2 separate regions of the Homo sapiens genome follow, and region 2 is linked to region 1. Evidence: fine-mapped expression QTL. Tissue or cell type: whole blood. Region 1 holds a variant in brackets; the other region holds the start of a gene. All regions are shown on one strand. Distances are from middle to middle.

Region 1 (8,267 bases):
CAACAGTGGAGTGAGAACTCCCAGCAATTTAGAGACTAGTGGTGGTACAATGAAAAATAGGAGTTTAATTTGAGTTATTAACGGTGTTAAAAATTGACAGGAAAACAGAACACAGAGACTTATGTTTGCATGTAAGTGTGCATGCTTTTATTATGATAAATTTGTTATATCAAAAAGAGAATTTTATAAGGGGGAGGAAAAATCACGCACCAAAATTGAGAGTGCAAAACGATAAGACAAATTTGGGAATTAAAAAAATTGTATGGTTGCAATGTAAAAGTTGAAGTATGGTTTGAAAAGATTAGATGTACTGATGAAATATATAGGAGTAATTATTTGTCCTGGGGACAGTGTAAATTATTTTAGAATATTATTAAACAGGGGCGTTATTTATAGTCAGATTTATAATTAAGAAAGATGGCTTGCAGAATGGACAGCAGGTTGAATGGCATACAGGAAGCCAAAATTGCCTGTGTTACAATTCTTTGCCAAGACTCTTAAAACTAAGGTTGGATAGAATTAGAATTCGTAACTAGGAATCAAAGTAAAAATGAATTGGGTTCAAATAATATGAGTTCTTTTTCTGTTAGTCTTTCATTTCCAAACGACTTCTCTTTCCCTCCATTCATATATGTAGCTATCTTCCATTGGAGATAATAATAATCAGTAATGTCACCCAAAGAGAAAAGAAGAATTTGACTTAAAAGGGGAAAATTAGACTTAAAATATATTAAAAAAATACTCTCTTATCTGCCTTGAAGGGCAGGCATTTTCTGAAATAAAGACAAGAATTTAGTGAAACTATTTTCCTTTACCCAGAAGGATCCACCCCGTTCCTTTTTTCCCTAACATCCAGTGAAAGAAGTAAATAGTGTTGACATATACTCACATTAGCAAGTATTTACACATATTTTGAAAGTTTTAATTTTAAAGACATGGTCCCTGTAATCTTTTGCCTTGTAATCTTTTGATCCATAATCCCACCATCATTTTTAGTTGGAGAATATGTATAACAACAGAGAAAAGTATGAGATGCTTTTTAACTTTTAATTTTGGTGTTATCACAAATAATGAATGCACTTATGAGATACATGGGATATATTGATACAGACATTCAATGTATAATAATCACATCATGAAAAAATAGAATATTTATACCCTCAAGCATTTATCCTTTGTGTTATAATCAAATTATCCCCTTTTAGTTATTTTTTAATGCGCAATTAAATTATTTTGACTATAGTCACCTGGGGTGCTGTCAATTACTAGGTCTTATTCATTCATTCTAATAAATTTTGTACCTATTAACCATTCCCACCTCCTCCTGCAACCCTCCACTACCCTTCCAGCTTCTGGTAATCAACTTTCTACTCTCTATACTCATAAGTTCAATTGTTTTTATTTTTAGATTCCACAAATACATGAAAACATGTGATGTTTGTCTTTCTGTGGCTGGCTTGTTTTGCTTAATGCAATGATCTCCCATTCCATCCATGTTGTTGCAAATGACAGAATCTCAGTCTTTCTTATGGCTGAATAGTACTGCATTGTGTATATGTACCATATTTTTTTTATCCATTCATCTGTTGATGGACACTTAGACTGCTTCCAAATCTTAGCTGATGTAAACAGTGCTGCAAAAAAATATGGGAGTGCAGATGTCTCTTCAATATACTGATTTTCTTTCTTCTGGCTACATACCCCGAAGTGGAATTGCTGGATTATATGGTAGCTTTATCTTTAGTTTTTTTTGAGAAGGCTCCAAACTCTTCTTCATAGTGGTTGTACTAATTTACATTCCCAACAGTGTATGAATGTTTCCTTTTCTCTGCATCCTCACCAGCACTGTTTATTGCCTATCATTTGGATAAAAGTCATTTTAACTGGGGTGAGATGATGTATCATTGGAGTTTTGATTTGCATTTCTCTGATCATCAATGGTGCTGAATATCTTTTCATAAGCCTGTTTGTTGTTTTTATGTTTTCTTTTGAGAAATATCTATCCAAATCTTCTACCCATTTTTATTTTTTTCTTTTACCCATTTTTAAATCAGATCATTAGATTTTTTTCTTATAGAGTTGTTTCAGCTCCTTATAAATTTTGGTTATTAATCCCTTTTCATTTGGAGAGTTTGCAAATATTTTCTCCCATGCTGTTGGTTGTCTTTCACCTTGATTATTTTCTTTATTCCACAGATGCTTTTTAACATGATATGATTCTATTTGTCCATTTTTGCTTTTGTTTCTTGTGCTTGTGGGGTATTACTCAAAAAATTTTTGCCCACACCAATGTTCTAATAGTTTCCCTAATGTTTTATTTTAGTAGTTTCATAATTTGAGGTCTTAGATTTAAATCTTTCATCAGTTTTGATTTTGTTTTTGTATGTGGCAAGAGATAAGGTTATAGTTTCATTCTTCTGCAAATGGATATCCTGTTTTCCCAGCACCATTTATTGAAAAGGCTATCTTTTCCCCAGGGTATATTCTTGACACCTTTGTCAAAAACGAGCTCACTGTAGGTGTGTAAATTTGTTTCTGTGTTCTCTATTTTGTTCCATTGGTCTATGCATCTGTTTTTATGCCAGTACCATGCTGTTTTAATTATTATAGTTCTGTAGTATAATTTGGAATTATGTAATGTGATTCCTCTAGTTTTGTTCCTTTTGCTCAGGATAGCTTTGGCTATTCTGGGTCTTTTGCAGTTCAATATAAATTTTAGACTCATTTCACCTATTTCTGTAAAGAATGTTGTTGGGCATTCTTTTTATTGGACAGAGATGGCATTTGGACAGAGATGGCATTCAGTCTGTAGGTTGCTTTGGGTAGTTTGTACATTTTAACAATATTAGATCTTTCCATTCATGAGCATGGAATATCATTTTATTTTTGCGTCCTCTTCAATTTCTTTCATCAGTGTATTATAGTTTTCATTGTAGAGGTCTTTCCCTTGTTTGGTGAAGTTAAATCCTAGGCATTTATTTAAGGCTGCTATAAATGGGATTACTTTTTAAATTTCTTTTTTGAATTGTTTAGTGTTGGCATGTAGAAATGCTACAGATTTTTGTATATTGATTTTATCTCCTGTAACTTTATCAAATTTGTTTATCTGTTCTAATAGTTTTCTGGTGGAGTCTTTACGATTTCCAAATAAGAAGAAAATATGATCTGCAAACAAAGATAATTTGACTTCTTTCTTTTTAATTTAAATGTCTTTTATTACTCCTGCCATTTTGTTATTTGTTGTCTGCTTGTTTTATGATCTTATCTTCCTTTTTTCCTTTTCTTCTGTCTTGCTTTTAGCAAAGGTGATTTTCTCTTGTAGTATGATTCAATTTTTTGCTTTTTACTTTTTGAGTATCCATTGTATGGATGCCATGAGGTCTGCAAATACTATCTTATAACTCATTATTTTAAACTGATAACAGCTAAATACTGATTGCATAAACAAACAACCATGGAAAAAGAAAACTAATAAAAACTGTATACTTTAGTTGCATCATCTCAATTTTTAACTTTTTGTTGTTTCTCTTGATGTCTTCATGTACTGTCTGCATCTTGAAAAGTAGTCGTAGTTATTATTTTTGATTGGTTTAGTCTTTCTAATTAAGAGATGTTTACACATCACAATTACAGCGTTATAATATTCTGTGTTTTTCTGTGCTCTTACTATTACCAGTGAGTTTTGTATCTTCAAATGATTCTTTCTTGCTCATTTAAGTCCTTTTTTTCAGATTGAAGAACTTGGTTTAGCATTTCTTGTAGAACATGTCTGGCATTGATAAAAGCCCTCATCTTTTTTTTGTTTGTCTGGGAAAGTTTTTATTCATCTTTTTTGCTTGAAGGACATTTTCACTGGATGTGCTTTTTTAGGGTCAAAGTTTTTTCCTTTGGCATTTTAATTATGTCACGCCACTCTCTTCTGGCCTGTAAGGTTTCCACTGAAAAGTCTGCTGCTAGATATATTGGAGTATATTATTTGTTTCTTTCTCTTGCTGCTTTTAGAAATCTGTCTTTATCTTTGACCTTCGGAAGTTTGATTATCAAATGTCTTGAGGTAGTCTTCTTTGGGTTAAATCTGCTTGGTGTTCTATAACTTTCTTGTACTTGAAGGTTGATATTTTTCTTTAGGCTTGGGAAGTTTTCTGATATTACTCCTTTGAAATAAACTTTCTATCCCTATCTCTTTCTCTACTTCATCTTTAATGCCAATAACTTTTAGATTTATCCCTTTGAGCCTCTTTTCTAGATCTTGTAGTCATGCTTTATTGTTTTTTTTCCTTCCTACATTTCCTGTGGCTGTATACTTCCAAATAAACTGTCTTCAAGCTCATTAATTCTTTATTCTGCTTGATCAATTCTACTATTAAGGGACTCTGACGCATTCTTTAGTATATCAATTATATTGTTCAATTCCAGAGTTTCTGCTTGATTCATTCTAATTATTTCAATCTCTTTGTTGAATTTACCTGATAGAATTCTGAGTTCCTTCACTGTGTTATCTTGAATTTCTTTGAGTTTCATTAAAACAGCTATTTTGAATTCTCTGGACAGTTACAGACATAGAATTTTGGAAGAATTCTCTAGATTATCAGATGGGCGCTTGTTCTTTTTCCTTATTTTGTCCCAAACAAAAGAGTCTCTCTTTCTGTGCTGAGCCATCTGGAACTGGGGTGGAGAGACACAAGCACCCCTGTCACCACCACCGCTATTTCAGACCTGAAGCCAGCACAGCACTGGGTCTCTCCCAAGATGCTCTGTAATCACTAACTGGCTACAACCTCTGTTCACTCAAGGCCCTAGGGCTCTGTGATCAGCAG[G/A]TGGCAAAGCCAGACAGGTTTGTGTTCTTCCATTCAAGGTGGTGAGCTCCCCCAGGTTCTCTACAGGCCCAGAAATGCTATTTGGGAGCCAGGAATTGGAGTAAAAAATCTTAGTAATTTGCCTGTTGTTCTATTCTACTGTAGCTAAGCTGGCATTTAAACCACAATACAAAGTCCTTCCTGCTTTTCCCTTCCCTTCCCACAGGCAGAGGAGACTTTCCCTGTGGCCACCAGCACCACAGGCCCATGGGGCATTCTACCAGGCCACCACTGATGTTCACTTAAAGCCTCAGGGCTCATCTGTCAGTTTGTGATTAATGCTACCAGGCCTGAGACTCACCCTTCAGGGCAGTGGGCTCCCCTGTGGCCCATGACAGGTCCAGAAATGCTATCCAAGAGCCTAGGCCTAGACTCAGAGACCCTAAGACCTTGATTATTGCTCTAACCCACTGTGGCCAAGCTGGTACCTAAAGTGCAAGGCAAAGTCCCCTTTACTTTCTCCCCTGCTTTCATCAAACTGTAGGAGTCTTTCAGCATAGTCACCACAGCTGGGAATGTGTTGGATCACAGCTGAATTCAGGACATCTTAGAGCCCAAGGCGCATTGCATACTACCTGAGTATTGATTATTAAGGACACAAAGACTCTTTAGTCAGCAGGTGACAAATTCTGCCAGGACTGGATCCTTCCCTTTATGTCACTGGGTTCTCGATTGGCTAGGGTATGTCTAGAAATGTCATCTGAGAGCCAGGGCCTGGGGTGGGTATCTCACATCTTTACCTGGTGCCCTGTCCTACTATGGGTGAGCTAATATCCAAGGTGCAATACAAAGTCTTCTTTACTCTTCTCTCTCCTTTTCTTAAGCAGAAAAAAGAAATCACTTTCATTGCTGTGAGCTGTGCAGCCTGGGGTTTGCCGGGAGGTGAGACAAACACCCCCTTAGCCACCTGGCTAGTAACTTTCCAGGTTAATGACTCTGAGCCTAGCCCAGCACAAGGAGTTCCCTAGTAATTGTAGTTCTTGAATCCTAGACTGCCTTTCAAGTCTACCAAGGACCCCAGAGCACTTTGGCTAGCAGTGACGAGGCTTGCTGAGCAACTCAAGTTTCAACCACTGGGATAGATGATTCCTCTCTGGCTAGGGCTGGTTCAAATGCTCCCACCATGCACAGGCACTGGCTGAGCCTATCACAGCTTTGTTCTCAACTATGACATGCAACACTGAGTTCAATGTAATGTCCCTCAGATGCTGTACTCTCCCTCCTCCAACACACAGACTCTCCATACTGCTGCATGGCCTCTGCCAGGGGATAGGGGAAGATTGGTGTCTACCATTCAAGACTGTCTCTCTGACCCACTTCAATGCCTCTTTCAGCAATAAGAAGTTAAAAGCAGGTACTGTGATTGCTCACTGAGTTTGGGAAACCACCTTTGAAATGATCTATACAGGAAATTTCAAAGTAAAAAGAATATGCACTTATTAATTAGGAAAAACATTATTTTGCTCCAATTTTTGACACATATTTCATCCACTGACATTGCAAGCCCCTGGAAGTAATTCTGGAGTAATATTTAAACTTGGTTCTGTATCATCATCATTGTTATTCTTATCATATATGAGATTATCCTAGTAAGTCTGAAAACAGTGGAAAATTACTTTATTCTGAAATTTAAATATGAAATCAATAAATATGATAGTGCAAAGGTATGAAATGTTATATTAATAACAAGTATGAAGCCTAAGAGACTTGGCAAACTGAAGGAACATAAGCAGACATTCGAGGAAAGTCTATGTCTAGACATACATTGAAATAAGAAAAAAGAGTCACAGAGGCAGGGGTGACAGTACCCATTCCTCTTCACTTTGTGGGAGAGAGCCTTAGCCAAATGATAACAACGCATTTAGTGATGGTGAAAGTATGCAAAGGGTTGTGTAATCAACGGACTTTGATACTTTCATCCATAAGCAGAAGTTTTTCCCTTAGGTTGGAGTTATTAGCTTGATGATATTACAAATTGATTTATCTCATTCTCCCTCATTTGATTCTATGTCCACTTAGCATTCTTCTGATTATACTTTTGGCCAGGTTGCTGAAAGAAAATACTCTCACTATATTAATGCAAATATTCTATTTCTTATAAAAGTTATATTTCTCAAAACTAAATTAATATTTTGGACTTATATAATGGTTTCTTAAGCATGTTAAAATCTCCACTGATAATGGGCATACCTTACATTATGGACTATAGTATATTCATTACTAACAAGCAATATCTCCAAAAAGACAGTCTACCAACCTTCTTTTAGGTAGAGATGAACACACATTGTCCTAAGAAGATAAAATTTTCTCTTTCTTTTGTGTTTTGTTTTGTATAGTTATTTAATTCTTACATTCTTAATTATCATTATCATCAGTAGAAAATACAAGGGTTAAGGATAACAAGAGCTAGTATTTGTTAGTATCTACTATTTTATTCCATTTGGACAGCTGGAACAAAATGCCATAAACTGAGTAGCTTATAAATGATTGAAATTTATTTCTCACAATTCTAGAGGCTGGGAAGTCCAGGATCAAGGCATTGGAAGATCTAGATCTGGTGAGGGCCCACTTTCTAATTTCTGTATGGCATCTTATAACTTTGTCCTCACATGGTAGTAGTAAAGAGCTACCTCTCTGGGGTCTCTTTTATAAAAGCACTTATTCTAGTTATGAAGGCTCTGCTCTCATAACCTAATCACCTCCCAAAGGCCCCACCTCCAAATGCCATAACCTTGGGGGTTAGGATTTTAACCATATGAATTTTAGAAGGAAAATAAAGATTCAGACAATAGCACATAGCATCTACTGTAAAGCCTACTTCACATGAAAAGGTAAAGAAATGCTGTGCCAAAAAGCATAGGTTTTCATTTCTTAGACACATTGATGAAAATTCCAGCTTGGCTACTTTCCAATTGTGTGATTTCAGAGGTTATTCTACAGCCTGAAGTCTGATTTTCTTCTGTAAAATGGGAGAAATAAAGGTACTCATCTCATGGGCCTGCCTCTTGGAATGTGGTAGGATTGTACCCATCTCCTTTCAAGGTTGCTGTAGCTACATAACTTACTTTCACTAATGCCACATAAGCAGAGGTAGTATGTGAGCTTCCATTTGAGATAATGGGTTGGAAACCAGAACACCATTTGTTATTTACCATTTCTCTGCCATGGTAAAGCCATGTGTCAAAATGGATCTTCCATTATTCCAGTTCTCTAAAAAGTACAATGATCAGAGCTACCTGTTGACTACATTGGGCAGAAAGTTAATAGTAAACCTGGTGATATTTGCAGCCTATATATTTTGATTGATATCCTACTGATAAATAGAACTCAAACCAAAATTGTCTGATTCTTTTTTTTAAAAAAAGTGCTTTTTTACCCTCTATATTTTGTCCATTATTAAAAACAATTTAT
Region 2 (8,000 bases), 35 kb before region 1:
CTCTTTCTTCAGGCAAGAGCCAGTCTTGAGATTTGAAATGTGCTTTATCCATAGATAATGTTTCTTGGAGACATCCCACAATGGGCTCTGTTTTTATTGGAAGACTCATTGAACATATGCAAGAATATGCCTGTTCCTGTGATGTGGAGGAAATTTTCCGCAAGGTAAGATGCTAGTGGATGCTATTTTCACTCTACTTCCCTGAATGCTTGGCTATTGCAATTGGAAGCATAGAAAGCAGATCCAGACAAGTTTATCTTCCAATAATGCTCTTCTTTCCAAAAGAGTTTTGGAGTTCTTTGGAGAGTGGACAAACCCAGGAGCCTAATCCAATCTATTAAGACCCACAGCCTTGAGAAAACAATCATTTAGTTTCACCCCGCTCCTGCCCTGCAGAGACAAATGAATGGACTCTAATTTACCTGTGTCTCTCATGGCTATTAGATCCAGCAGCAGATTTAAAATGCCCTGAGGAGGGTCATTCAATGCTTACATACATATATGGTTATACTTGTTGCAGATGGAAGTACTTTTTGTTTTTGTCACTTATTTTGCTATATTTGTTGTAGTTTTTTGGCATAACTCAAGAAATTCTTGAAAAAAAAAACTCAGCAAAAAAAAGGGCTACAGACTTTCCTTACTCTTTTAGGTTCGATTTTCATTTGAGCAGCCAGATGGTAGAGCGCAGATGCCCACCACTGAAAGAGTGACTTTGACAAGATGTTTCTACCTCTTCCCAGGACATTAAAATAAGGAAACTGTATGAATGTCTGTGGGCAGGTACATGTGTATGGTCGGGAGTGTGGGAAGGTTGAGGAAAGGGTACTGAAAGTCCATTTGAGTCAAGAACTCTAGGTTTACAGGCTGAGAATCCTTAATCCAAAAATTTGAATTTTGAAATGCTCTAAAATCCAACACTGTGTGAGCGCCCACATGATATTCAAAGGAAATGTTTATTGAAACATTTCAAATTATAGGTTTTTGGATTAGGGATGCTAAACCAGTAAGTATACAGCTGAATTCCAATATACAAAAATATCTGAAATTTGAAATACTTCTGGTAGCATGCATTTTGGATAAGGGATAATCAAGCCATATACAGAAAATACTGAAGTAATGCCTTTCTTCTGGTCAGTGCAGAGCACGTTGCTCTTCTCCCAAAGTTTTTCATTTAGACCCCTTTTGAGATTCATCTGATATTGGCCTAGAAGTGGCCGTAAGACTACAAACCCTCACTTTTGGATGTTTCTCTCCTTCACCTCAGCAGGGTATATTTAAACATAGCATGTGGTCTTTCCTTTTAAAATTGTGTATGTTCCCATTGGTGGTATAACTTTATAACTTGCATGTCTTTAACAAAATTCTTTCCTATGTTTTTTTTTTTAATTATTTCTTTTTCTCATAGGAAGTGAAGAGATCCTTCTGTAAAGGTTTTTGGAATTATGTCTGCTGAATAATAAACTTTTTTGAAATAATAAATCTGGTAGAAAAATGAAAACTTGTCCTCATTTTTCTCCCACACTGAAGAAACAGGGACTGGAACTTAGAGTGACTAAGGAATTTAGAGTGTTTGACTTAATCTGTCAGACCCAAACTGGCTATTGGCACCTTTCTTTCCCAGAACTTAAAGTAAAATAAAATATAAAAATTTAAAAAAGAAAATCAGACTTACAAACATAGCAATGTTATTAATTACTTTCTTGAACAAAAATTTATTTTGTGCCATTTTTAAAAAAAGAAAAATCGTTTGCTGGGCTTTCTGCTTTGGGGATGTGATATAAGTTACAGCAGGTATCTGACTTCAAATAATTTAGAGCTCAGCAGGAGAGACGGGGGAAGACAGCTAGTTATGACAGCGACAGTGTAGTGTGATAAAGAACTTTTCCCAAATCCCACAGTTTGCTACTGACAAATCCATGAACTTGCATGTTTCTACCCTTTGCAAAAGTATTTAAGACAAAGTAAGTTTTGAATCAACCCTCAGTAGTTCACAGACTTCTTGAAAAGATAAGACAGCCATCCAAAATGAAGCGCTTGGCAGATGGTGCCTGACACCCTGAAGAAACTCTAGGATGCATGGTGTGCACAGTGAAGTCCTGGCATGGTGCAGAGAAAACGAGTTTGGGGTGAAATCATGCACTCAGGGATGTTAAGATTTAGGGAGGATTCGAAGAACTACCCCTTACTTGCAAATATGTTTTTTTCTAATATTTAACAGATTAAATGAGAGTTAATTTCTGACTTCTTAAACACCTTCATAGTTGAACACATTACAGTCTCTCTCTCTCTCTCTTTTTTTTTTTTTTTACCTTTTATTAACTGTTTCTCTGGGCATATCTCTTCTGTGTTATCATGCATACTCTACTACAACCTGAGACTACATCTGTGATCAGTCTTTGCTCAGAGAATATCAAAAAGGAGAAGTGAATTGCCACCCTAAGTAAAAATTAACTGTTAAAGCAGTTTTAGTCAGTTGAAGAACAGCATTCCAGGAAGTAGATAAGAGGATTCCTTCAGAACTGTCTCCAATCAAAGCGTAAGATGACAGGGAGATGGGGAGGAGAAGACTCCATCATGATTCCTCAGCACAGTTTAAACAAGAAATACATTTATTGAATAAACAATCCTTTCCTTGTTTCTTTTTGCTGTTGTTGTTGACTTTGTTGAGTATCAGTTGGTTATAGGTGTGTGGCTTTATTTTGGGGTTCTCTATTCTGTTCCATTGGGCTTTGTGTCTGTTTTTTTTGTACGAATACCTTGCTGTTGTGGTTACTGTAGACTTCTAGCATAGCTTGAAGTCCAGTAATGTGATGCATCCATCTTTTTGAAAAGCAGTTTGGAGATTTACCAAATAACTAAAAAAAGAACTATCATTTGTCCAAGCATCCCATTACTGACTGAATCCTCAAAGGAAAATGTACTGTTCTATCAAAAAGACATGTGCTTTCAAATGTTTGTCGCAGCACTATTCACTGTAGCCAAAATAATAGAATCAACCCAGGTGTCCATCAATGGTGGATTGGATTTAAAAAAATGTGGTACACTGCTACTATGGAATGTTACACAGCCATAAAAATGAAACCCTGCCCTTTGCAGCAACATGGATGCAACTGGAGGCCATTATTCTAAGCAAATTAATGCAGAAACAGAAAACCAAATATCACATAATCTCACTTGTAAGTTCTAGCTAAATATTGTGTACACATGGACATAAAGACGGGAATAACAGACACAGGGAAATACCAGAGGGAGGAATGAAGGAAGAAGGCAAGAGCCGAAAAACTATGTACTGGGTGCTATTCTCACTACCTAGGTAATAGGTTAAATTGTACTACAAACCTCTGCATCACCTAATATACTCTTGTAACAAACCTGCATATGTACCCCTGAAACTCAAATAAAAATTGAAATGAAAAATAAAGAAACCCAAGATATACAAAATATTTGGTTAATTCTTATGGGAAGATGCAAGGAAACTAGTTAGATTTTACTCATTCAGGACATGTGTTTTTAGACGAGCAGAGGTAGAAAAACTGACAGATCAGAAGAGAGGGATGAATAAAAGAAGATGTGGGGCTATGGAGAGAGAAAAGGAAAAAGAAAACCAGGCTGAGGTTTCAACCCACAAAACAATGTTTTGTCATTTGCATTTTTTTTCCCCAGGGAAGAATCTAGAGTTCAAGAATAGAAAGCCAATTTGCTTACTACAGGGCACTTCCCAATGATGAAACTATAGGTTCCCAGAAGCAACTTCCCATAATCTGTAATCACTTGTCCCCACTCCCTGCAATAAGGAAGTACCTAGTGTATTTTATCTCTGAGTCTGAGGCACTTTCCAGTGCTGTACAAAGAGACAGAGGCTGTTAGCTATGGCTGGTGAGTCTGGGCCCTTTTCTGACTAGCAGCTGGGTACTCAGGTCTTAGAAAAATCTTGATTTATTGCTATGTGACAGGCAGAAATACCAAAAGGGAAATCAACCAATAGTGTGCATGCTGAATCTTTCTCTTATTGGTGGTATGTAGTTTGAATCCTGAGACTGTGTAGAGACACTGAAGGAGAGTATGTTCTCTAGATGTTTTCAAGCCAGAAAAAGGTTAATTCCTTTCTTTCAGCTTCTGGTAATCAAAGAGAGAGTAAGGAAAGACAGAGTAAGTTATTTGTGTGAGAAAACTCCGGAAATTTCTAAATGCACTCTGAAATCTTCTCTGCTTCCTCTTGATTCCAAATTAATCCTCCAGACTATGAACCTTCTCCCCACAATCAGATCTGAGAGCCTCTGTGTTCTCAACGTGTTGTCATCTCTTATCTTGAATTATCTTATTGGTCTGTTTAAAGTGATTGCATTTTTCCACCTTTCTATGTAGTCCTGGTACTAACTCTTATAATGTAATATATCTTAGGTTGCTATCATAGACTTTTAACTGTCTTCCCACTCCCAAAAACTTAACCCTTCAGTCCATACTGCACACTACTTTCAGGCCAACTGTCTTATACACAGAAGCTAAAAAAGCCTATGAGTTGGAGTCCTGGGCTACTTAAGCAGCTCGTATTCCAGCAGGTCATATTGCGTCTTTGGTTTCATTCTCCTCACTGGAAAAAGGAAGAAACTGGAATAGATCAGTGCTTTCTAAACCTTATAACATATATGAATAATCTGCAGTCTTTTTTTTTCTTTAATTTATTTATTTATTATTATTATACTTTAAGTTTTAGGGTACATGTGCACAATGTGCAGGTTAGTTACATATGTATACATGTGACATGCTGGTGGGCTGCACCCACTAACTCGTCATCTAGCATTAGGTATACCTCCCAATGCTATCCCTCCCCCCTCCCCCCACCCCACAACAGGCTCCAGAGTGTGATGTTCCCCTTCCTGTGTCCATGTGTTCTCATTGTTCAGTTCCCACCTATGAGTGAGAATATGCGGTGTTTGGTTTTTTGTTCTTGTGATAGTTTACTGAGAATGATGATTTCCAATTTCATCCATGTCCCTACAAAGGACATGAACTCATCATTTTTTATGGCTGCATAATATTCCATGGTGTATATGTGCCACATTTTCTTAATCCAGTCTATCATTGTTGGACATTTGGGTTGGTTCCAAGTCTTTGCTATTGTGAATAATGCCACAATAAACATACGTGTGCATGTGTCTTTATAGCAGCATGATTTATAGTCCTTTGGGTATATACCCAGTAAAGGGATGGCTGGGTCAAATGGTATTTCTAGTTCTAGATCCCTGTGGAATCGCCACACTGACTTCCACAATGGTTGAACTAGTTTACAGTCCCACCAACAGTGTAAAAGTGTTCCTATTTTTCCACATCCTCTCCAGCACCTGTTGTTTCCTGACTTTTTAATGATTGCCATTCTAACTCGTGTGAGATGGTATCTCATTGTGGTTTTGATTTGCATTTCTCTGATGGCCAGTGATGGTGAGCACTTTTTCATGTGTTTTTTGGCTGCATAAATGTCTTCTTTTGAGAAGTGTCTGTTCATGTCCTTCGCCCACTTTTTGATGGGGTTGTTTGTTTTTTTCTTGTAAATTTGTTTGAGTTCATTGTAGATTCTGGATATTAGCCCTTTGTCAGACGAGTAGGTTGCGAAAATTTTCTCCCATTTTGTAGGTTGCCTGTTCACTCTGACGGTAGTTTCTTTTGCTGTGTAGAAGCTCTTTAGTTTAATTAGATCCCATTTGTCAATTTTGGCTTCTGTTGCCATTGCTTTTGGTGTTTTAGACATGAAGTCCTTGCCCATGCCTATGTCCTGAATGGTAATGTCTAGGTTTTCTTCTAGGGTTTTTATGGTTTTAGGTCTAACTTTTAAGTCTTTAATCCATCTTGAATTAATTTTTGTATAAGGTGTAAGGAAGGGATCCAGTTTCAGCTTTCTACATATGGCTAGCCAGTTTTCCCAGCACCATTTATTAAATAGGGAATCCTTTCCGCATTGCTTGTTTGTCTCAGGTTTGTCAAAGATCAGATAGTTGTAGATATGCGGCATTATTTCTGAGGGCTCTGTTCTGTTCCATTGATCTATATCTCTGTGTTGGTACCAGTACCATGCTGTTTTGGTTACTGTAGCTTTGTAGTATAGTTTGAAGTCAGGTAGTGTGATGCCTCCAGCTTTGTTCTTTTGGCTCAGGATTGACGTGGCAATGCGGGCTCTTTTTTGGTTCCATATGAACTGTAAAGTAGTTTTTTCCAATTCTGTGAAGAAAGTCATTGGTAGCTTGATGGCGATGGCATTGAATCTGTAAATTATCTTGGGCAGTATGGCCATTTTTCACGATATTGATTCTTCCTACCCATGAGCATGGAATGTTCTTCCATTTGTTTGTACCCTCTTTTATTTCCTTGAGCAGTGGTTTGTAGTTCTCCTTGAAGAGGTCCTTCACATCCCTTGTAAGTTGGATTCCTAGGTATTTTATTCTCTTTGAAGCAATTGTGAATGGGAGTTCACTCATGATTTGGCTCTCTGTTTGTCTGTTGTTGGTGTATAAGAATGCTTGTGATTTTTGTACATTGATTTTGTATCCTGAGACTTTGCTGAAGTTGCTTATCAGCTTAAGGAGATTTTGGGCTGAGACAATGGGGTTTTCTAGATATACAATCATGTCGTCTGCAAACAGGGACAATTTGACTTCCACTTTTCCTAATTGAATACCCTTTATTTTCTTCTCCTGCCTGATCGCCCTGGCCAGAACTTCCAACACTATGTTGAATAGGAGTGGTGAGAGAGGGCATCCCTGTCTTGTGCCAGTTTTCAAAGGGAATGCTTCCAGTTTTTGCCCATTCAGTATGATATTGGCTGTGGGTTTGTCATAGATAGCTCTTATTATTTTGAAATACATCCCATCAATACCTAATTTATTGAGAGTTTTTAGCATGAAGCGTTGTTGAATTTTGTCAAAGAACTTTTCTGCATCTATTGAGATAATCACGTGGTTTTTGTCTTTGGTTCTGTTTATATGCTGGATTATATTTATTGATTTGCGTATATTGAACCAGCCTTGCATCCCAGGGATGAAGCCCCCTTGATCATGGTGGATAAGCTTTTTGATGTGCTGCTAGATTCGGTTTGCCAGTATTTTATTGAGGATTTTTGCATCAATGTTCATCAAGGATATTGGTCTAAAATTCTCTTTTTTGGTTGTGTCTCTGCCCGGCTTTGGTATCAGGATGATGCTGGCCTCATAAAATGAGTTAGGGAGGATTCCCTCTTTTTCTATTGATTGGAATAGTTTCAGAAGGAATGGTACCAGTTCCTCCTTGTACCTCTGGTAGAATTCGGCTGTGAATCCATCTGGTCCTGGACTCTTTTTAGTTGGTAAGCTTTTGATTATTGCCACAATTTCAGATCCTGTTATTGGTCCATTCAGAGATTCAACTTCTTCCTGGTTTAGTCTTGGGAGAGTGTATGTGTCCAGAAACTTATCCATTTCTTCTAGATTTTCTAGTTTATTTGCGTAGAGGTGTTTGTAGTATTCTCTGATGGTAGTTTGTATTTCTGTGGGATCGGTGGTGATATCCCCATTATCATTTTTTATTGCGTCTATTTGATTCTTCTCTCTTTTTTTCTTTATTAGTCTTGCTAGCGGTCTATGAATTTTGTTGATCCTTTCAAAAAACCAGCTCCTGGATTCATTAATTTTTTGAAGGGTTTTTTGTGTCTCTATTTCCTTCAGTTCTGCTCTGATTTTAGTTATTTCTTGCCTTCTGCTAGCTTTTGAATGTGTTTGCTCTTGCTTTTCTAGTTCCTTTAATTGTGATGTTAGGGTGTCAATTTTGGATCTTTCCTGCTTTCTCTTGTGGGCATTTAGTGCTATAAATTTCCCTCTACACACTGCTTTGAATGCATCCCAGAGATTCTGGTATGTTGTATCTTTGTTCTCGTTGGTTTCAAAGAACATCTTTATTTCTGCCTTCATTTCATTATGTACCCAGTAGTCATTCAGGAGCAGGTTGTTCAGTTTCCATGTAGTTGAGTGGTTTTG

What was found. PIP is the estimated chance that this variant, and not a neighbour inherited with it, causes the effect.
Region 2: it holds the start of CASP5, and the variant in region 1 is fine-mapped to the expression of CASP5 in whole blood (TOPMed, PIP above 0.99).

Annotation. Positions count from the first base shown.
Region 1 is chr11:104,983,489-104,991,755 of GRCh38, reverse strand. No RefSeq gene overlaps it. Among named protein-coding and RNA genes, the nearest start is that of CASP4, 19 kb to the right of the region's middle. The variant G/A (reference allele first, on the strand shown) is at 4,818.
Region 2 is chr11:105,019,006-105,027,005 of GRCh38, reverse strand. CASP5 (caspase 5) reads left to right here and starts at 3,838. Exons shown (of 10, transcript NM_004347.5): 1 at 3,838-3,876. The coding sequence starts at 3,870. It overlaps CASP1 (caspase 1), which reads left to right. Exons shown (of 9, transcript NM_001257118.3): 8 at 55-164; 9 at 650-1,498. The coding sequence ends at 748. The region is part of intron 1 of LOC124902742 (a long non-coding RNA gene); the gene reads right to left.